Linked DNA regions of Homo sapiens: all the other regions are reported to be linked to region 4. Evidence: microRNA targets listed by miRTarBase, many of them from high-throughput screens and not tested one by one. Region 4 holds a microRNA gene; each other region holds the end of a gene's coding sequence.

Region 1 (3,078 bases), not on the chromosome of region 4:
TTGCCACCTTCCATTCTCCATTGAGGAGCCAGTTATTGATCTTGGCCCATTTCTCAAAGTTGCTGCACTCAAATTCCATCCTCAGCACAGACAGACTCCCCAGCCACATCCTCCCCCAGGGGAATGGCCCAGTCCCTCTTCCTGGGCTTGTTGATGGAGGCCCTACCTCACACCTGCCCCCCTCCCAATAGGAGCCAGTACCCAAGTCTGGGGAAGTACCATGTTGAGGATGGGGATTCTTCTCTGTGCTCCCTGCCTGCTCAGCCCTGCTGTGAGCACCCAGAGGGTAGACCTAGTCTGGTTCACCAAGTGCCCAGTTCAGGGCCTGGCACAGGGCAGGTGTCAGTTAAGTGCAGGCTGCACAGCCGGAGTTGCCATGTTGCTTGCAAGCCAGAAAGTATGCCCGGCATCCTCCTCCTCTCCAGAAGAACCAGACTAATGATGAGTCGGAGTCAGCAGATCAATGCGGTGGGGAGCAGGAACAAGGCACAGAATGTGCCTGTGTCTTTCAGTGCAGTGGCTGGGAGGCTGCCCCTTTCAGGAAAGGTGGGGTTGCAGGGGCCACCATGGGAGCCTGGGCAACAGGCCCCTCTCCCCACACCTTTCCCTGAAGCCCTATGTCCCCACCCAGATGCCAGGCCTGACCACGAGGTGGTGTGCAGGGCTGGATCAGGGCCACCCCAGCACAGGACCTGAGGTTAGGGCTGAGTACGGCCCTATTTCTCATGCAAGCAAGTCACTTAACCTGTTCTTGTAACAGAGGACTAGACATTCCCACCCTGTTTACCTTTCAGGGGATACTGGGAGGAAGACACGAGAAGGTTCTGGGAAGTGCTCAGTGTCACAGCAGTATAAGGCTTCAATGTCTGCCTATGTGGGTGAGGGATGAGGGTGGTGACCCCTGCCACCTAGCTCCAGGCTAGATGTCCTATGTGAGAACTCTGTGTGTACACCTGGCAGGCTGGGTGACCCCTCCCTACCCTTATTTTACTGAAGCATCATTAATGCCTCTCGAGGCCATCTTGGAAGTCACAGCAGAGACTTCCAAGAATCCTCCCAAACTGTGAGACACAGCTGGACAGGGTAGGGGAAGGTGACAGTCATCTTTTCACTGGGTTAAATACAAGTAGTCCAAAAAAGATCCAAAATAAAAAATGCAATTTTTATTTGTTGAACATAATTTGAAACTGTAAAAAGATTTCTCTGTCCATCACCAGAAATCCAGAAGACACCTGAAGAGGACTGACTGTTTCTTTGCCACGGGGAAGGTGTGATGAAACAATTAAAATCCCATGCATCCCTGGCCCTTCCTCCACGTTGCCCCTCAGAATGCCTGCAGCTGCAGCAGGCAGGAGGCAGCAGGAGAACCCGGGCTGTGGAAGGCCCCTCTGCCTCTCTGGGAAAGCTGCTGGGGAAGCCAGAGGTCACAGTGCATTGGAGGCCTGGCTTTCAGCCACTGGCCAGGCCAAAATGAAACATCTGCTCAAGTCTCCCCAGGCACCTTGCTGGGGGTGAGTGGGAGAAAGAAGTGGAGAAAACTGATGCTGGACCACAAGTTATCACCCTGTACCTTGGCTTTGAAGTGGCCCCTGCTGGTACAGGAGCAGGGTGAGAGTAAAAGTAAATAAATAAAAGCAACATGCTTCAAGGAGAGAGGGTGACAGACCCACTGAAGCACCCCGTGTCCTGGCTCGACCAGGGATAAGCCAGGGCGTGATGATTTAAAACACTCTGATCTGAGGCCAATGGCATCAAAATACAAATTGCTGAAGTGGGAGAGGAAGTGAAGGGCTGTTTGTTAGGGGGACTACAGTGGAGATTCTGGTGAGTGTGGGTGGGCTCGCCAGTGACCCCAATATTTTCTTTGTGTAACAACCAGAGTAAGCATTAGGATGCCCAGGCTGCCCTCTACTGGCAGTTTCTGGGAAGGACCACAACAGCAGCACCCAACCTGCAACCCACAACAGCCGAGACAGGAGAGAGAGAAGAAAGCAAGAGAGAGAGAGGAGAGGAAGAGAGAGAGGAGAGGAAGAGATAGAGGAGGGGAAGAGATAGAGGACAGGAAGAGAGAGAGGAGGGGAAGAGAGACAGGAAGGGAAGAGAGAGGAGAGGAAGAGAGAGAGGAGAGGAAGAGAGAGGAGGGGAGGAGAGACAGGAGGGGTAGAGAGAGGAGAGGAAGAGAGAGGAGAGGAAGAGAGGAGGGGAGGAGAGACAGGAGGGGAAGAGAGAGAAGAGGAAGAGAGAGAGGAGAGGAAGAGAGAAGAGAGGAAGAGAGGAGAGGAAGAGAGACAGAGGAGAGAAAGAGAGGAGAAGAGAGAGAAAGAAGAGGAAGAGAAAGAGAGAGAGAGAATATCAGCACTCAGGGAGGATGAGGAGTGGCTACACCTCCTGCCAGGTTGAAGGCATGGCTGGGGCCTCCTACTGGGAGGCTAGAAGCATCTCCATCGATTTTAGCAGGTTCCTCCATCTCAGCCTGGTCTGCAGAGGGCCCTGGAGGAGGAAGGCCTCTGGTGCTCACTTCAAAGGCATCGAGAAGAACTTGTTCCCAGACTTGCAGCGGACTTGCTCAGTGTGCACGCGCAGCAGCACCTCAGCATCTTCAAACCCATCCACGATTGCCTTAAAACAGCAGCCAGGGGAGGACAGTCACATTAAGGGGCATCTGGGACCCACAGGGCACTGCAAACAAAACCAGCTCACCCAACTTCAGAGGCTGGGCGAGGCTGAGGCTGCAGGCTCCAGGCTCTGCATTGGTGATCTTGTCTGATCACTTCTGTAATCTCTGAGGTTGGTCCTATCATCTCAACTTTACAGATGAGGACACAGATGCTCAGAGCCCTGGATCACAGAAACCAATAAAACCAGGCCTGGGACCCAGGTCTGCCGGAGCCCAAACTAGAGCTCTTTGCCACCTCCAGCAACATCAGGCCAAGCGCAAGGTGGCTCCTTAACGAGGGACCACAGCTGCATCCAGCCTGCACGTTTGGTTTGGTTGCAAAATGTTTTTTAAACATCCAAATTAGTTGCTGACATTTGAAAACTGACAGATTACATGTAAAAATCTAGGTTTCTGGCTTC
Region 2 (3,079 bases), not on the chromosome of region 4:
GCTGAAGGGATAGAGCTGGGGAATGTCAGAAATGGGGAAACTGAGTCAGCTTCCAGGCCTCTTAAGTCCTTGACTGGGGCTCACCTGATCCAGCCAGAGGCAAGGGAGACCTAAGCCACTCTGGAGCCTCCATTTCCTGATCTGTAACTCGGGGCTTGTTGTCCACTGGGGCCTCACTTCCCCAGACTGTGGCCCCCATCCTTCTCCAGACCTCCTCCCTGCTCTAGCCCAGGGCCTCGCTTAGACCCCCACCCCCAGGGGAGCCTTGACAGAGGCCCATGCCCACCCTTCCTTGTACACGCCTGAGCACGGCTGATTCCTCCCTGTGAGCCCAGGCCAATAATGTGCTCTTCATGCCACAAAGCTGAAAAGCACTCAGGAACCAGGTGCAATCGGCCTAAGGGACCTGTCCAAGGCCACCCAGCCCTTAAGAAGCAAAGAAGGGCTGACCTGTCACTACCCACTGATATCTCAGGACCTGCAGGGGCAGGGTTAAATGCACATTCCCCTCTCACCCACACGGCAGCAAGAGAAAGAGTTAGGGTCCTGGGGGCTGCAATCTGGGCAATGCCTAAGCAGACAGCCTCAGACAATGAAGGGCGAGTCAGGACTCAGTTGTGTCAACTTGGTATATACAACCTCTCCAAGCCTTGATTTCAGCAGAAGCCCACAGAGAAAGCCCTGATGCCTCTGCCTGCCAGTGCCTAAGGGCTGGGGAAATGCCACCTGCCCCAGCTTCATCCAGAAACTGTGGCTGCTCCCTCCCATCTGCGGGGCACCTTGATTAGTCTAAGTGGCCAGCAGACCCCAAGCAGAACCAGGCCAGTGCCTCACACAGAGCAGGCACTAGGATGCCTGTCGACAGCACTCCTTCCCCTCCTTCCCAGGCCCCAAGCCCTTATCGGACACGACTCATTTTAAAGAAAAAATAATATTTATTTGCAATATAAACAAAGTCCCGTTGTTGGTTCGGGATATATATATATATGTATGTGTGTGTATATATATACGTAGGGTCACAAATCTTCCTTCATAAGATCATAAAGCAAAACTGGCCACCTTCTGGCATACCCTCATTTACACAAATCTGGTACATCTTTCTGGGTTTTCTTTTTAAAAATAAAAGAGAGAAAAAGAGAACCATGTACAGCATGGAAGCTTGTTGTCAATTTCTCGACTGTGGCAAGATTTTAATCTGCTGCGCTAAAGAATCCCTGAAAGCCACCCCCGTGAGGTAAGAAGCAGTGGGGCAGAGTTTTTCTGTGGCCTCACTCACATGCTGAGTGCTGCTCCGTCAGGGACCCTGGCCTGACTCCTCTGCCTGCCCCAGGCCCCCATGCAGTCCTGACACCTGGTGGAACTGAGGCTGGAGAAGGAACAAAACTGGAGGAAGATAACGGAATCCGTGGCTTCGTTCTGTGGAGGCAGGGGGAAGTGAACAGAGCCTTACCCCCCTTCTGCTGGTCCATCCTTGCCCCACTTGCCCCCGCCCTAGGGTTGAAATGGGTGCAAGTCTCCTGGCAGTAGAAGGCATGGGCAAGATGAGGGCAGGGCAAGCTTCCAAGGGGACAAGGGGGCTGGGAGTGGCCAGACCAAAGCAACAGCTAGGGAGAAGGAAGAACCTGGAGGTCGGGCTGGGCCCCACCACCTAATGTCTCCCCAGCCACTGGGCCTCCACTCCCAGTTACAACAAGAGAGAGGAAAGGAAGAGAGAGGGAGGGGGGGAGAGAGAAAGAAAGAGAGAGAGAGGGAGAGAGAGAAAGAGAGAGAGGGAGAGGAAGAGAGAGAGACAGACAGACAGACAGAAGTAGTGGCTAAGTATATAAAAGGGCTCAGAGCCCAGGCCTTCTTAGGGGCTGACCCCAGAGGGCTAATGCTACTGCCTGGCAGCCCCCTGCGGCCCACCTCCTGGGGGACAGCGGCAGGGCCCCAGGGTCCCCACCTTCTGCCTCAGGGAGGTCTGCAGGGACCACCAGAGGGATGGATGAGACGGCAGAAAATGCAAAGACCACCATCCAGCCCACCAATCACAACTTGCAGCAGTCATCACAGGCGAATGCAGAGCTAAGTCAGACTGGGCCAAGGGTGGGAGGCGGCACGACTGGGGGTCCCAATACCTGAAGAGCAGTAAGCCACCCCTTCAAGAAGGGCCCGCTGAGGAAACAGAGGCTTCACACATGTGCAAAACGCATTTGGTCAAGGTCAACATGGCGTCTGTCTTTTCCATTAAAAAACAAAAACAAAAACAAACACGATACTTGCTTTTTGAAATTGAACGAAAAACAAAACTGAACATTTCTCTCTCTTGCAGGATCAGGAAAGGGATGAAATACTGGGTTATACAATCCACTGTTGCATGTAGCCTGAAAATAACACTTTTTGTTAAAAAAAAAAAAAAAAAAGAAAAATCAAGAAGAGCTCAAACACTCTTTGTGCTCCAGGGAGCTTGGATTTACCTGCCAAAAGTAAAAAGTAAACTCAGGTCCGTGGATGTGTCTTTAAAAAACAGCCAAACTGGCTGGGCTGTCAGCAGAAAGGAGCGTCCTGGACAGGATGAGGCCCTGGTGGACGCCCAAAGCCACGTGTCCAAGAGCCGAGGCCTCTCCAGCAAGCCCTGCAGTGGGAGACCTTGCCTGCGGGCCCTGCCCCCAAGGATGGTGAGGGGCGCTCCGACACCGATCAGCCTGGGCCTCTGGGCACAGGTGACATCTGGGGGTTCCTCAGGCCAGAGGTGGCGGGCTTGGGCTCTCCCACCTAGCCCTGTGGAGAGCCGAGCAGGGGCCTGGTGCCATGCCCCCCGTGCACCAGGCCTCACGTGGACTCCAGCGTATTGAGTGGGAACAGGTTGTGGTTGGTGGGCGTGGAAAAGTAGAGCTGCTCACTCGACGCGTGGTTGTCGCACGGGCTGCTTAGCCCCAGCGTCCGCTCAAAGTCCAGCAGCTGCCCCATGAAGTTGAAGTTGGGCGAGATGTTGGACTTTTTCCTCTTGACAAAGTCGTAGGCGTCGTTGAGTGACAGGTTCATCTTCTGCATCAGATAGGCCACAGTGACCGTCACTGAGCGGCTGATGCCTGCCAGG
Region 3 (3,079 bases), not on the chromosome of region 4:
AAACAAAAAAAACCTGAAAGAAACAAAATGCCGCAACAAACATCCCTATCCTTATAGGGATAAAATCGGAATAATAAATTATCGTCATCACTGGAGACCAGCATGAGATCCTCTGAGGCAGTGGGAATTTTACTGGTTAGGTTCATCACCTTGTCATGATGACACGAGAATGGGCCCAGAAAAAGGTTTGGGAAACTCTCCAGAAACTGAGTGAGGTTCCTTGGTTTGGCTGCCTCGTCTGTTTCTGAAATTACACGTTTTCAAAACTCAACTAATTTCCCCTGTCATCTTCCCCATTCCTCAGATGATGCCTCATCATTCTGTGACTGCTTCCGATAGCTCCTTTGCCAGGACATTTGCCAAGTCTTGCTAATCTTGCCTCTTCTGCTCCCTCCTATCATGGCTTTGATCAAGCAGGCCCCGTATCATCTGGGGTTGCATGCCCTGAACTATTGGGTTCCCTGCATCCAATCCTTCACAATGCTGTCAGGTCTAGAAGCATAACCCTACTCCCCGCACCCTCCTATTCAAATACCTTCAATGTTACCCAGTGCTTACAGGATAAAGGTCAAATTCCTCTTCCTGGTATCCATGGCCCTCTATGACACAATCCATTTTGTTAAACTCTAACTCTCCAGTATCAAACTCCACGTTTCCTGGGCACAGTACCCTGTGCTTTCCCAACTCCATGAAAGCCATGCTCACAGGCTTTCAATAGGAATGCGTCCCACCCTACATCCCCAAAAGGTTCAGCTTAAGTGCTACCTCTGATCCCAGATGAAGTTCTGACTCTGTTCTCTGAATATCCACTTTGCCTTCATCACTAGCAACTAGATCACAAACTCCAGGAGGGCAAGAGACACTCTACTTTCGTATTTCCAATGCATTCGAAGATTTTGGTCTATAGGAAGCAACAGGACAGTTGTTTTAAGCCTAGGGACAGCCCCCAACAAATTCACAGGCAGCAGTCAAGTGAATCTCCTTTCCCAAGATTTTGCTGCAGCATGTAATGAAAGCCCTCAAGCATCCTCCCTGCTGTGATGCCCCTCAACAGTCCCTCAAGGGCTGAGACCAGATTGGAACCACTGTACTTCTGGTACCTCCTAGAGAGCTAGGCCAAACAAGCAGTGGAAGAATAATTAGGACAAAAGTTATCCAGTAGGCCAGGCGCGGTGGCTCATGTCCGTAATCCCAACACTTTGGGAGGCTGAGGTGGGCAGATCACCTCAGGTCAGGAGTTCGAGACCAGCCTGACCAATATGATGAAACCCCGTCTCTACTAAAAATACAAAAATTAGCCGGAAGTGGTGGCATGTACCTATGATCCCAACTACTTGGGAGGCTGACAGGAGAATCACTTGAACCTGGTTGGTGGAGACTGTAGTGAGCTGAGACTGCACCACTGCACTCCAGCCTGGGCAACAAGAGCAAAACTGTCTCAGGAAAAAAAAAAAAAAAAAAGTCCAGTATAGTTTTTTCCCCCTGGTTTTTGATTAGTTCAGATCTTAATGTGATGAGATCATGATACCGCAGATTCATGGCAATTTCGACAAACAGCACAGAACTCTATATTCATGAACAACTCATCTGGTAATGCTCCAAGTTTCCAAACTGATTCATTCTTCATCAGCCTGGCCATACGTTTCTTAAGAGAAAGGATGATAAATTCCTCGGAAACCTGCCTTTATTCTGTTGGTGAGAAAAATCCTTTAGGAACGTGTTGGTTCCCTAAGATGGGTGATCCCAAGGAACAAAACAGTCATTACACATGAACTTTTTTTTTTTTTTTTTTTGAGACGGAGTCTCGCTCTGTCGCCCAGGCTGGAGTACAGTGGCGTGATCTCAGCTCACTGTAACCTCCACCCCTCGGGGTTCAAGCGATTCTCCTGCCTCATTCTCCTGAGTAGCTGGGATTACTGGCGTGTACCACCATGCCTGGCTAATTTTTGTATTTTCAGTAGAGACGGGGTTTCACCATGTTGGTCAGGCTGGTCTCGAACTCCTGACATTGTGATCCGTCTGCCTAAGCCTCACAAACTGTTGGGATTACGGGCGTGAGCCACCGTGCCCGGCCTACACATGAACTTTTTATGCTAAGAAAAGACATATCAAGATATATCAGAAAGTACAACTTCAATTCAAACACCATGAAATTTTGTCAAGCAAAAATAGTCTTTATTCAAATTTAATGGAAACAGGGGTCACTATACTTTGCAAGACGGGGAAAAATAAAATTAAAAAAAATTCTTTTCTTTTCTTTTTTAATATAAAACAATATAATCACAATACCAGAATATGGAACTCTACAGTTTATTTCCTATGGGTTACTGCAGGTATCAATTTTCCTCGACTGTGCTATTCACAACTTTGTTAAGTCCAAAAATATGAAACCAAAGTGGTAGGAAACTTAAGACTTAGCACTTTCACTAAATGGCATACATCGAAGGGCATCAATTCAAGAGCAAAAATGGTTGAACTCACCATACCTACCTATGTGGTCATTCCAGCCTTAGAGCCGTCCAGGTTACTGAGCTCCCTGTAGGAAAGGCCAGGCCTGAAAGCCAAGGCGTTTTGGATATTCTACTGTGGGCCATGAGTAAAAGGGGATTTTCAAAGAGAAAATTTTTTTCAGTCGAGCAGGAAGGCCTGGTGCCAGGAGGCTTTACTGAGAGGAAGCACTTAGATTTAACAATTATAGACACACCATTAGGGGAGTTAAAAATGTACAGCAGTGACATGTTCTACTCCAATCACTTGTGCTACGGCTACCAAACATGTACAAAAGACTTCTCGGGTAGTTCCAGCTGTGGCCATAGCCAGTTAGGACCTTGAGTGGGACCTAGATCTAGATCGGGAGGGCGATCTGGAAGCAGACCTGGATCTAGACTTGGACCGAGATCGGGTTTTTGAAGCTGACTTTGATCTGGAGCGTGATTCTGATGGAAGGTTTGGTTTCGATTTGGAATTGGATCTCGACCTGGACCGGGTCTCCTGATTGGTGCCAGCATTCTCACTCTCTCCTCGACCTTCCCTCTGGCTGGATTCAGACTTGGCATGTTCCCGCTCCTTTGACACGGAG
Region 4 (3,079 bases):
AGGCAGGGCTGGGGAAGCTTACTGTGTCCAAGAGCCTGCTGGGAGGGAAGTCACCTCCCCTCAAACGAGGAGCCCTGCGCTGGGGAGGCCGGACCTTTGGAGACGGTGTGTGGGGGCCTGGGCACTGACTTCTGCAACCACCTGAGCGCGGGCATCCTGTGTGCAGATACTCCCTGCTTCCTCTCTAGCCCCCACCCTGCAGAGCTGGACCCCTGAGCTAGCCATGCTCTGACAGTCTCAGTTGCACACATGAGCCAGCAGAGGGGTTTTGTGCCACTTCTGGATGCTAGGGTTACACTGGGAGATACAGCAGTGAAGCTGAAATGAAAAATGTGTTGCTGTAGTTTGTTATTAGACCCCTTCTTTCCATTGGTTTAATTAGGAATGGGGAACCCAGAGCCTCACTTGTTCAGGCTCCCTCTGCCCTAGAAGTGAGAAGTCCAGAGCTCTACAGTTTGAAAGCCACTATTTTATGAACCAAGTAGAACAAGATATTTGAAATGGAAACTATTCAAAAAATTGAGAATTTCTGACCACTTAACAAACCCACAGAAAATCCACCCGAGTGCACTGAGCACGCCAGAAATCAGGTGGCCTCAAAGAGCTGCTCCCACCTGAAGGAGACGCGCTGCTGCTGCTGTCGTCCTGCCTGGCGCCTTGGCCTACAGGGGCCGCGGTTGAGGGTGGGAGTGGGGGTGCACTGGCCAGCACCTCAGGAGCTGGGGGTGGTGGTGGGGGCGGTGGGGGTGGTGTTAGTACCCCATCTTGTAGGTCTGAAACACAAAGTGTGGGGTGTCTAGGAAAGAAGGTGTGTGACCAGGGAGGTCCCCGGCCCAGCTCCCATCCCAGAACCCAGCTCACCTACCTTGAGAGGCTCGGCTACCTCAGTGTGGAAGGTGGGCAGTTCTGGAATGGTGCCAGGGGCAGAGGGGGCAATGCCGGGGCCCAGGTCAGCAATGTACATGAGGTCGTTGGTAATGCCGGGCAGGTCAGGCAGGTAGGATGGAACATCAATCTCAGGCACCTGGCCCAGGTCTGGCACATAGAAGTAGTTCTCTGGGACCTGCAAGATTAGGCAGGGACATGTGAGAGGTGACAGGGACCTGCAGGGGCAGCCAACAAGACCTTGTGTGCACCTCCCATGGGTGGAATAAGGGGCCCAACAGCCTTGACTGGAGAGGAGCTCTGGCAAGGCCCTGGGTCACTGCACCTGTCTCCACCTCTGTCCCACCCCTCCCACCTGCTGTTCCAGCTGCTCTCTCTTGCTGATGGACAAGGGGGCATCAAACAGCTTCTCCTCTGTCTCTGCCCCCAGCATCACATGGGTCTTTGTTACAGCACCAGCCAGGGGGTCCAGGAAGACATACTTCTTCTACCTACAGAGGCGACATGGGGGTCAGGCAAGCTGACACCCGCTGTCCTGAGCCCATGTTCCTCTCCCACATCATCAGGGGCACAGCGTGCACTGTGGGGTCCCAGGCCTCCCGAGCCGAGCCACCCCAGTCACCCCCTGGCTCCTGGCCTATGTGCTGTACCTGTGTCTGATGCCCTGGGTCCCCACTAAGCCAGGCCGGGCCTCCCGCCCACACCCCTCGGCCCTGCCCTCTGGCCATACAGGTTCTCGGTGGTGTTGAAGAGCAGCAAGGAGCTGACAGAGCTGATGTTGCTGGGAAGACCCCCAAGTCCCTCTTCTGCATCGTCCTCGGGCTCCGGCTTGGTGCTCACGCACACAGGAAAGTCAGCTTCTCCTGGGAGGGCCAGGATGGCCAACGGATGGTGAATATTTGGTGCTGGGCCTAATCAGCTGCCATCCCATCCCAGTCAGCCTCCTCTGGGGGACAGAACCCTATGGTGGCCCCGGCTCCTCCCCAGTATCCAGTCCTCCTGGTGTGTGACAGGCTATATGCGCGGCCAGCAGACCTGCAGGGCCCGCTCGTCCAGGGGGCGGTGCTTGCTCTGGATCCTGTGGCGGGGGCGTCTCTGCAGGCCAGGGTCCTGGGCGCCCGTGAAGATGGAGCCATATTCCTGCAGGCGCTCTGGAGCAGGGTACTTGGCACTGGAGAACACCTGTGGACACAGGGACAAGTCTGAGGGGGCCCCAAGAGGCTCAGAGGGCTAGGATTGCTTGGCAGGAGAGGGTGGAGTTGGAAGCCTGGGCGAGAAGAAAGCTCAAGGTACAGGTGGGCAGCAGGGCAGAGACTGGGCAGCCTCAGAGGCACGGGGAAATGGAGGGACTGCCCAGTAGCCTCAGGACACAGGGGTATGGGGACTACCTTGATGGCCTTCTTGCTGCCCTTGATCTTCTCAATCTTGGCCTGGGCCAAGGAGACCTTCTCTCCAATGGCCTGCACCTGGCTCCGGCTCTGCTCTACCTGCTGGGAGATCCTGCCATGGAGAAGATCACAGAGGCTGGGCTGCTCCCCACCCCCTGCACACCTCCTGCTTCTAACAGCAGAGCTGCCAGGCCAGGCCCTCAGGCAAGGGCTCTGAAGTCAGGGTCACCTACTTGCCAGGGCCGATCTTGGTGCCATCCAGGGGGCCTCTACAAGGATAATCTGACCTGCAGGGTCGAGGAGTTGACGGTGCTGAGTTCCCTGCACTCTCAGTAGGGACAGGCCCTATGCTGCCACCTGTACATGCTATCTGAAGGACAGCCTCCAGGGCACACAGAGGATGGTATTTACACATGCACACATGGCTACTGATGGGGCAAGCACTTCACAACCCCTCATGATCACGTGCAGCAGACAATGTGGCCTCTGCAGAGGGGGAACGGAGACCGGAGGCTGAGACTGGCAAGGCTGGACCTGAGTGTCGTCACCTAAATTCAGACGGGGAACTGCCCCTGCACATAGTGAACGGCTCACTGAGCAAACCCCGAGTCCCGACCACCGCCTCAGTGTGGTCTAGCTCCTCACCTGCTTCCATCCTCCCTGGTGCGGGGTGGGCCCAGTGATATCAGCTGCCTGCTGTTCCCCAGATGTGCCAAGTGCATTCTTGTGTGCTTGCATCTCATGGAACGCCATTTCCCCAGACATCCCTGTGGCTGGCTCCTGATGCCCGAGGCCCAAGTGTCTGA
Region 5 (3,079 bases), not on the chromosome of region 4:
AGCCTGGCACGCCAGGCTGTAGCAGTAGAAACGAACGCCATTCATGAGGCCTTGGTACAGAAGGCCGGCAGCCAGCCCCTTCTGCAGGCCCCACAGCCCGTCTGCTCGGGCCACAGCAGCGACAGAGGCTATGAAGCCATGGTAGGGCCGTGGGTAGGTGCCCCGGGCCTGCAGCTCCCCCTGCAGCTGCAGCCGCGTCTTCACCACCTCCAGGGGGTTGGTGAAGACACAGGCCAGGCAGCAGGCAGAAGCACCCAGCACCAGGTCCACTGCTGGGGGCACCGTCTCCATGGCCTCCGGGCCAGTGGCCTTCTGTGCCCGGGTCAGGGGCACGGCACAGGCCCTGTGGTGGTGGCGTTTAGGCTGTCTGTAACCTCGCAGGGCTACGGGGCTGGGGTTTGCAGGGGACCGAGGCCATGTCTAGAGGGTAAGGGTCCTGGTCTGACAGGCCTGTGGCTGCCTGGTGTCCCTGGTCTATCTCAGCAGTCCACCTGCTCTGCTCAGCTGTTCCAGCGGTCTGCCGGAGCCTGGGACGCGCCTCCGCCAGCTGCGACCAATCCCAGCTGCCTCTGTGCCCACACCTGCCAGCCGAGGGCGGGCCTGGACCCTGGGATCTGGGGGAAAGGTCACTTGGGACTGGAGGGAGAGCGTGGATAGGGAGAAGGTGCCAACCAGCCCAGGCACCTCCTCCTGGCCTCCCTCTGGCCCTGGGCAAAGGGCTGGCACCCCTGCCTTGCCTCTGGCTTAGCCTGTCCAGCTTTGGCAGAGCCCTAGGCAGGGGGCAAGTGACTGGGAGGTCCCTGGCATGGGGTACACGGCCAACTCCGCCCCTGCCCCACCCTGCCCCTGATATGCCCCTGGTGACTGACTTCCCCTTTCCAGGACTCAAGTCTTCAGTCTGGCTCCCACCGTCTATAGGCCCATGCTCAGCAGGGTCAGAAGTAGAGAAGGGCTCTGGAGCCCTGGGGAGCTGATTGGAATCCCAGGTGTGGCTCTCATGTGTGACCCCTGGGCAAGTCACTTCCTCTCAGAGCTTCAGTTTCTCTCATTTGTAAAATGGAGATACTGACATCCACTCCAGAAGGTTCTGTGGAGGACTGGCGATGAGAAGAGTGTGCCTAGGTCAGTGCTGCACCCGATAAAGGCACCCGCATCGCCTGCTCGCCCCCACCCCCACTGCCTCTGGCTCCTATGCCCCCCTCGCTGCTCCCAGGACTTCAGGGCACCTGGGTGAGTAGGACTTGAGGAGTGACCTTGGCTGGTAAGGACTTGCTGCCAGGCCTGCCCTGGGATGCCCTTTGTGCCCGCTGAGAAGAGAACGCCACCTGGGCCAGCTGTCAGGTGTGTCTGCTCAGGCTGGGGCCGGTACCAACATGCCCACCTTGGCCTCTGCCCCCAGACAGCTCTCTCCTGCCAGGCCACCCTCAGTCACCCAAGGCCCAGTCCAAACTAGAGGCAGAACCACCCAAGTTGGAGTCCCACACCCACCTCCCAGGGCCCACCCCTTCCCTCCCAGGCCCTTGAGGCAGCAATGCTGAGTGGCTTGAGGGCCTCAGGCTCCCGGCCTGGCAGGGTTGTCACCCTCTGGCCAGCCCTGGAGGGGACGGCGCAGCAAGAGGCAGCGAGGACAGCTTGGATTCTCCTGGGTTTGGGCACTCACCCCCGGGGCTGTGGAGGCAGGAGCGTCCTGCCCCGGGGTGGGCTGCAGATGGTGGGCGGCGGTGCAGACGTGCCCTGGGGCTTGAGCTGGTGGCTGCTCCTCCCCTGGCTGCTGCAGCAAACAGGAACAGGACGGAGGGCAAAGGTCGGGCCGAGAAACTCCCAGGGCCTGAGGGTCTGCAGACGGTGAGTCCGCCCGGCAGCGGTGGCTGATCTGGTTCTGCATGTCCCGTGTGTCCCTTGTGTCAGGCACAGGGCAGATGATGGAGGAAGGTTTGCAGAAAAGGGCCCAAGGGATTTGGAGAGCTCCCTTCCCCTACCCTGCTCAAAAAGGGCCAGTGACAAGCCTTGGCAATATAACATGTCTATTTTATTTTAAAAAACAAAACCCAAACCACCTGACCCCTTCCCCAGGAGGCTCTTGACGAAACTCTAGGGAAGGGCCTGGCTCCAGCCAAGCAGGGGACAGTCAGAAGATGTCAACATGGATGCCAGGCTGGTGGGCTCCGCCCTTCTCCAAGCCCCCCATCCACCCCCTTTGCTCCTCGGTGCTACAGGCACTGCCGGGTTGAGGGGACAGGCAGGGCAGGACTGTGGGCATGCAGAGCCTCCTGGCAGCCAGGGAGGGCTGCCCGCCCCCCTGCATCTGGCGAGGCAGGCAGCTGTGTGCGCAGTGATGGAGCTAGGAGGAGGAAACATGCGCAGACACCCCGTGTTCCCGCTTCCCCACGTGGCCAGGAGAGTGTTCAAACACGAACAAGGATGGCTGGGCACTCAGGGCCCCAGCCCCCAACCCAGGAGAGGAAGAGGGGGGTCCCGCCCTCCTGGTTCTTTTGTTCGTCCTTAGATGGATGGTGTTCTCGGTGCCACTCGGCAGAAATTCTGCAGACTGAGGCGGAGGCCCGGGAGGAGGGCGTGCATCCGCAGAGCCCACAGGGCTCGGACCCTCTGCCCCCAGCGACCTCCATTCGCTACCTGTCGGGCAGGATGCCCAGGGGTGCCGGGCACCTGATCTGGATCCCTGGAGTGGAGGGACCCTGTCTTAAGCCACACTCGGTGGTTCTGCCGCCCAGGGCAGGGGTGGACTGTAGGCTCCCGACAGCATGACAACAGCCGTGACAGTGTGCCTGCCGGCTGGCGTGCCTTCCTTTCCTGCCCACCAGGGACGCCAACCAGCTCTGCCTCAGCACCAGGGGTCTCGGGAGGCTCGGCCGCGGCAGAGACTGTCGCTCCGCTGCCAGGCGCTGTGGATGAGGCTCAAGGCATCCTCGAATTTCTTCTTGTTGGAGGCTTCCTGGATCGCCGTGTGGGGGAGGTCCACCTGTGTTGGGGCGTGCAGAGAACAGATGAGGGCCACTGAGGGCCACAGGAGTCTTCAGGGCTTGTGGGCACCAGGCCTGCCTCTGCCTTGGCCACGGAG
Region 6 (3,065 bases), not on the chromosome of region 4:
GTTTCTGTGATTTCATCTTTCTTTTGTGAAACATGTTTTCTTCTTGTGAGAATTAGCCAGGATCCAACTGAAGTAACACAAATGATGGTGTGTACTGTGCCAATAAGAGATCTGCCAACTCCCAGGCAAGCTCAGTTTCTTCCCGCTGAAATTCTTTTTCATGCATTTCTTCCATTCTGGTCACACTGTCATGCTGAGAAACAGCTGGTGCCACACTTCTAGATCAATGGCTTTGCTTGTGTGGTGCTTCGAGAGCAGAAATGGGGGAAGGGGGGGAAAGAGCAGCACAGAATGGAGACCTCAGGTTCAGTGCCTCTGCCTGATTTCCAAAGCACACTCTTAAGGCCTTGAGGGCCATTTAGGAATATGTAACTGTTTATACAAATAGAAAACTTCTAACTCACAATCCTCACCAATGTCAATGTTTGTGCTAATCTCCCCATCCTCAAAGACTCTCGTGGTCAGCTCCTCTCAACTTACTGGCCATTTACCACTGCCTCCATTCTGCTTCTGCTCCTATCTGCGCCTTACTCAGTTGTCCCTTGGTATCTGCAGGAGACTGGTTCCAGACCCCCTGCCAATATCAATATCCCTGGATGCTCCAGTCTCATATAAAGTGGTGTAGTAATTGCATACAACCTACACACAGCCTCCCATATACTTAATCCGTCTATACATTACTTATACCAAATACAATGTAAATGCCATGTAAACAGATGTTATATTGTATTTTTAAAATTTTTATTGTATTTTTTTTCAGAATATTTTCCATCCACAGTTGGTTGAACAGAGTGCCATCTGTACCTAGAATGCTGTCTCAGCCCAAGGTACCTTCTTCACATCATTCATGAAGTGCTTTAAACCACTCCCCCTCAAGAAGCCCTTTAGAACACTCAGAAAAAGATCCTCATCTCATAATTCTTGGTCCAAATACAAAACTCCAGACTCCTCAATTACTGCATCACTAAAATTCCCACCATTTCAGTGCATATAATTAGCTTTTTAAGTTATATATTTATTATTAGCTTGGTGTTTGTGTGTTTCCATCAGTGGTAACACCATAAACATGATTCTTCCAATTTTACTACTTCTGTAACACAGTTGCATGTGGAAAACGGACATTCGATAAATTTATCCTGACTTCACATGCCAAATAGTACCTTTACACAGCCCTCAGTTAAAGCCACCAGTTTATAAGTAACTTAGTGGAATAGCCTAGAGGTGACAAAGGAAGAGTTGGGCAGCAGCATTCAACAAACATCCGTGAATGAAACTTTGCTCCTCCATTCCGATATCTGGGCTGCACTGATCTACCACTCTCCTGGTTTCTGCCTCTGTCTTCCCTGCTTTGCATTAGAATCAGTCTCAGTGATTAACAGTGGTGCCTGAAAGACAATTTCTCCAAGAGAACTGTATAGGCTCTAAGGGCAAAACACCTGCCTTCTTGGCAGAATCGCCAGGCTCCCTGACAAATAATTTGGAGAGTTTTAGTGTCTAATGGACATACTGCTGGAGTGGGTGTTCTTAGGGTTGTCTTTAGTGTTGTTACCTGGACAAACCTTTCCCTCGAGTAGAAAATTAAGACACATTCTGTTATAGGAAAGCACTCTGCTTGCCAACAGTTTCTATAATAGTTATTACACTGAGGCATATTAATGAAGGGCGTTTTGTTTCTTGTCATCAAGACATGCCATCTTATGACACCAAATGCCCTCCATTTCATTCTTGTGGCCAGTTACAATATCCACATAACTTGGAATTGATGAAACTATTGCTTTTCTAAACACCTGTGTGCTTTTGTAAATGCCTTTGTTTAATGGAGTTACTACTTATAGCATTTAAATATGTTATAGATGGGACAAATATATGATATGTAGCACCTGAGAAAGTAGTACCATAAGGAAAAACAATGGAAAAGGAGGGGAAACAGAGAAGCAGAAATGGGGATACATTTATCCGCAAAAAAATGCAAGAGGTAGAGGAATGGTTAAGCAAGCTGAGAACGCAGGGAGGACAGAAATGTAGAAATGATCTTCCTTGTGTGATTGTCACAATGTTGATGAGCACTAAAATACTGCCAGGTGCTGGTTTAGACTAACTTGACATCAAGCTTGCAAAAAAGAACACTATTTCCCAGTCCATGAAATGTTATTAATATGCAAGTGCAAGGGCACAGCGGGAGGATGAGAGAGAGGGAAAAAATCCAAAACGTCTTCTGACTCTAACTTGTACATCCTTAGGAGTAGATTAAAAAGAGATTCTGAAACAGGAGAATTTAAAAGAACAAGCACATTTGTCTTATACATTTGTGTTTCTATAAAAAGATTTTCACAGGAAATTTGTACTTGCAATGTATATTTCAGTGCTTTTACATTTTGTTTTGGCAAAGAAAGTAAAAGGAAAATTTTGTTTGTATGTTTAATTAAGGATTGCACCTGAGACGAGTCAAGCCTCTTGAAAAAGTCAAATGCCTCCATGTAAATATAATCAAGTTTCCTTTCCCAAGTGTCCATGTGTGATAAATAAAAAGTTTTAGATTACTAATATTCACAGGTAACACAGAGAAGAAAAAAAGAGAAATTCATAAAGAGACTTTAAGTGTTTAAGTTAGGGGTTGATCACCAGTTTGTGCAGTATATAAATTTTTGGAATGGTTTCACACACATGTATCTTGATTTGTGGATTGAGCTGCAAGTTCTCTTTCTGGGCATCTTTTGCTTGACAGATTCCCAGCATAGCACAAGTTCCTGGAGAGTTTAACAATCATCTTCTGCCAGCATGTCAATCTATAAGGGTTTAGTGCTTGGATGTCAGAGTGAGTGTTGATGATACTCGGAAGATCTGGGGAAGCATGTTACTAAGTTGATAAAACATTTCTTCAGAAATACTCTGTAAGACGAAAAAATAATAATTGCACTTGTTAAATCATCATTGATTTTAAAAATAATTTTAGAAGTATTTTAAAATATGGACCTAGTTCTACTAGGAATATGTGAGTGCAGTAGGTGAAAATTATCTTTCATGGCCGATGTAACTGCATGGCCATGGACAAGGGCTGGTTTTCC
Region 7 (3,079 bases), not on the chromosome of region 4:
TGATATTGATACTTTTAACAAATTTAAGCTAATCTTTGGCTTTGCTTACCATCATGGACATCTTATTCCTTCATAAACAGAATTAGATCAAATTAAAATTCTTCTTAAAAGAATCATTCAGCAAGTAGGTGCCTACTGTTGTTTGGCACAGTAGGGGATTAAAATGTTGAAAAAAAATACCCTTATGTTTTTTCACAGACATTTATTATGTTAAATGTCTTTCTCCTTAGGTTTACTCCTGATGGGAAGTACTTGATTGTGGCCCAGCTGAATCTTAGCAGGCTCTCAGTCGTAGCAGCACCCCCAGTGGGAAGCATTGGGGAGTGTTCTGTGATCAGCACAATCCAACTAGCAGATCAAGTTTTGCCACATCTCCTAGAAGTCGACAGAAAGACTGGAGCAGTCTATGTAGCAGAAATTGGAGCAAAACAAGTACAAAAATATGTCCCTTTGAATAGCTATGTTCCTTCATTTGGTTCATAATGTTTCTTTCCTGGGAATATTTCAAGTGGCAGTTCAGATTCTCAATTCACTAAGTGCTTAAAAATGATGTTCAAGCACAAGAATTTATTTTTCTAGTATAAAAGATCTAGTATCAGAAAGATTTGTTTTTGTATCATTAAGAATCTTATATTTTGTTGCCCTCTTGGGACTTAGTTTTATTTGTAAGTGCATAAGGATATTTTAATGAAAGGAAAGTAACTAAAAAATGGGGTTGGGAAGAGGGACTAAGGTGGTAACCTCATTATTTGCCCTGGTAGACTGATTCTCCCTGGGTAAAAAAAATGGGAATAAAAATGAGCTTGCATGATAATTTATTAAATTTCATGTGAAGAACTCCAGACCTCCAGATTGTGCAACTAACATAAAATGAGCTGCTTGAGAGATTGTAAATAAGATGAACTATTGATTAATTTGAGTACCCACAGAGTGCTGTGTCTTGACGACTTAAAAATGAAAAAGCAGGATTGCCTTTTGAGTAGCTTGCAGTCTAGTGGGGAGACAAGCAGGCAAACAGTCACAACACAGCAAAAGCGACCTTGGAGCATAGTGGGACTTTTGGAGTAGGAGTGCTGCATTTGACTGAGGGAATCATGGATACTTCGCAGGAGAAGTGAATTTGAGCTCAGACTTGAAAACTGAGGAGGAGCTTACCAAGGGACAAGGAGGAGAAAACAATAATTTCCAAGTAAAGAAGGTATAAAAAGTTAGAAGTGTACTGTAAACTTTGATAGGCTTTTAGGCCTTTTTTAAAGCCCAACTTGGCTTCTGTCCATTACCTATAAGATATTTAATGTCAGTCAGCCTTTAAATGTAGGAATAAAATGGCTGGCATCTAAGCACTTTAGTAAAAGAGGTTTTTACAAATAACTAAGGATTGTAGAGCTTCCTTCTCTTTTTTTTTCTTTTTCTTTCTTTTGTTTTACATGAACTCAACTTATTCCTAACATTTGTCTACCTCAAAGAAATTTCAAGATTATTTAGATAACATGGATATGTGCCAAATCCTTTGAGCTGTTAAGATGATAATTTCCTGCTTTCCTCCTACATCTTCTCCTCCCACTCCCTCCTTTGGTGTGAATATTGGCTTCCCAATTAAGACCTTTTTTTTTTTTTTTCCAGTTTGTTTTAGCTTATTATAGGTTTTGGAGGAACTTTGCCATTTTGTAATCTTTCAAATCATTCTTCACCCTTCCTCACATCAGCTTCCTGCTTTTCCCAGTGTTTTACTGTAAATTGTGTAGCATATGACAAATCTTGAGCTGACTTTCCTCTTCACCTGTTATGGCTGGAGTATTTTCCAGACCTGAAGGGACTCACACTTGTTTTGATACTTGGATCACATCTCCGTGAGGTTAGGAAGGTAAATCTACCAACAGGAAGCCCTGTACTCTGTATTCCAAGGCCATTGGTAAATGTGTTGGTGCCACTGATCGGACTGTATGACCTTAAACAAGTCACCTTAGTTTTCAGTGAAATGGGAATATCATTGTCTCCTCTTTCATGAATGCTGTGAGAATCAGATGTGCAACAGGTACAGACTTGCCCTTTGAAATCTATACCTCTGGATACATTAGAGGCATTTTATTAACAAAGGCCCTTCTAAATGTGCTATTTATTTGACAATAACTATCAGATTTGCCTTAATTTTGTGTTTATAGCATTTATCAAAACGTATCCTCATAGACTTTATGCAGATTAATATGGTCAATTGATTTGGATAAAAGAAAGTAATTTCAGGGTTTGTTTTTAAGCCAGGACAAGAAGTGCAAATGCCTCTTTGAAGCAATTTAGGCTAAACTGATTTTGAAATTTCAAAATGTTTTATTTTACTTTGTTTTATTAAGCCAGGACAAGAAGTGCAAATGCCTCTTTGAAGCAATTCAGGCTAGGTAAACCGATTTTGCCATTTCAAAACGTTTTATTTTACTTTGTTTTATATCAGAGTCTTATAAAACCTGCTGCAAATATTTCTGAATGTCTTTGTAAAAGTGTTTGTTAGTGTACCTGTGATTATAGTACTTCACTTTTTTCCTTTGGATTAATTGGTTAAATGAATGAGAAATGTGTTATGTTTTTTACTAAAAAGTATAAATTAAAATTTTGGAAAGAAAAGGCAATATTATCTGGCTCCCCAATTAAAGTTTGATTTTATTGTCACAAAAGCAGTCTATAACTTTTTATTCCTTTAAAGAATTTCAGCAATTATGAAATCACAAGTTGATGCTGAAAGAATATCCCACTTTTCACACATATAGCGTGTAAGCTGATGTGCATAAATATGACTAGAAGTTGCTTAGAACATTTAAAGAATGTAGCTTGTTTTGAGGTGGTGGGAGGGTACAACTGACAGTAATAACTAGCTAATTGTCTACATTTCTGCATTAAAAGTGGAACATCTTTATACTTCTACTTTTTAGGTCTATTCTTGGAGTGGGGAGGGGAGAAAGTGTTCTAAATTAGAAAACCAAAGGCTATAGATTTAGCTCTATCTTTCCCTACCTGTACCATCAGATTGGGTCTTTCAAGTGGAATATTTATCGATCAGAGAAAACTTGGATGAAATCTGATGGTGAAC

The links. Region 4 holds the annotated microRNA hsa-miR-6859-5p (GAGAGGAACAUGGGCUCAGGACA, at 1,417-1,439, opposite strand). A microRNA usually pairs through its seed, bases 2 to 8, with sites in the 3' UTR of a target mRNA and lowers its output. Matches are read on the target gene's strand: a 7mer-m8 pairs with bases 2 to 8, a 7mer-A1 pairs with bases 2 to 7 and ends in A, and an 8mer does both.
Region 1: the mRNA of USB1 is a reported target of hsa-miR-6859-5p. Seed matches in the 3' UTR shown: 7mer-m8 at 2,325-2,331, 7mer-m8 at 2,277-2,283, 7mer-m8 at 2,264-2,270, 7mer-m8 at 2,249-2,255, 7mer-m8 at 2,232-2,238, 7mer-m8 at 2,187-2,193 and 8 more.
Region 2: the mRNA of DUSP7 is a reported target of hsa-miR-6859-5p. Seed matches in the 3' UTR shown: 7mer-m8 at 1,774-1,780 and 7mer-m8 at 1,697-1,703.
Region 3: miRTarBase lists SRSF4 as a target of hsa-miR-6859-5p. Seed matches in the 3' UTR shown: 7mer-m8 at 2,669-2,675.
Region 5: miRTarBase lists PLEKHM2 as a target of hsa-miR-6859-5p. Seed matches in the 3' UTR shown: 7mer-m8 at 2,459-2,465.
Region 6: the mRNA of FERRY3 is a reported target of hsa-miR-6859-5p. Seed matches in the 3' UTR shown: 8mer at 1,977-1,984.
Region 7: the mRNA of NHLRC3 is a reported target of hsa-miR-6859-5p. Seed matches in the 3' UTR shown: 7mer-m8 at 1,770-1,776.

What each region holds. Positions count from the first base shown.
Region 1 is chr16:58,019,682-58,022,759 of GRCh38, reverse strand. USB1 (U6 snRNA biogenesis phosphodiesterase 1) reads right to left here. Exons shown (of 7, transcript NM_024598.4): 7 at 1,142-2,619. The coding sequence ends at 2,515. Among named protein-coding and RNA genes, the nearest start is that of MMP15, 4.5 kb to the left of the region's middle.
Region 2 is chr3:52,048,004-52,051,082 of GRCh38, forward strand. DUSP7 (dual specificity phosphatase 7) reads right to left here. Exons shown (of 3, transcript NM_001947.4): 3 at 916-3,079. The coding sequence ends at 2,812. LOC124906238 (a long non-coding RNA gene) reads left to right here. Exons shown (of 2, transcript XR_007095908.1): 2 at 1-955. Among named protein-coding and RNA genes, the nearest start is that of DUSP7, 7.0 kb to the right of the region's middle.
Region 3 is chr1:29,145,590-29,148,668 of GRCh38, forward strand. It overlaps SRSF4 (serine and arginine rich splicing factor 4), which reads right to left. Exons shown (of 6, transcript NM_005626.5): 6 at 2,154-3,079. The coding sequence ends at 2,821. Among named protein-coding and RNA genes, the nearest start is that of TMEM200B, 23 kb to the left of the region's middle.
Region 4 is chr15:101,971,889-101,974,967 of GRCh38, reverse strand. It overlaps MIR6859-3 (microRNA 6859-3), which reads right to left and starts at 1,444; the gene lies at 1,377-1,444. It also overlaps the pseudogene WASH3P. RefSeq lists an enhancer at 1-363.
Region 5 is chr1:15,733,698-15,736,776 of GRCh38, reverse strand. PLEKHM2 (pleckstrin homology and RUN domain containing M2) reads right to left here. Exons shown (of 20, transcript NM_015164.4): 20 at 2,008-2,980. The coding sequence ends at 2,843. It overlaps SLC25A34 (solute carrier family 25 member 34), which reads right to left and starts at 519. Exons shown (of 5, transcript NM_207348.3): 1 at 1-519. The coding sequence starts at 291. RefSeq lists enhancers at 653-1,419, 1,420-2,185.
Region 6 is chr12:4,487,011-4,490,075 of GRCh38, forward strand. It overlaps FERRY3 (FERRY endosomal RAB5 effector complex subunit 3), which reads right to left. Exons shown (of 14, transcript NM_020374.4): 14 at 725-2,889. The coding sequence ends at 2,797. Among named protein-coding and RNA genes, the nearest start is that of FGF6, 43 kb to the left of the region's middle.
Region 7 is chr13:39,047,444-39,050,522 of GRCh38, forward strand. It overlaps NHLRC3 (NHL repeat containing 3), which reads left to right. Exons shown (of 7, transcript NM_001012754.4): 7 at 231-2,666. The coding sequence ends at 483. Among named protein-coding and RNA genes, the nearest start is that of NHLRC3, 11 kb to the left of the region's middle.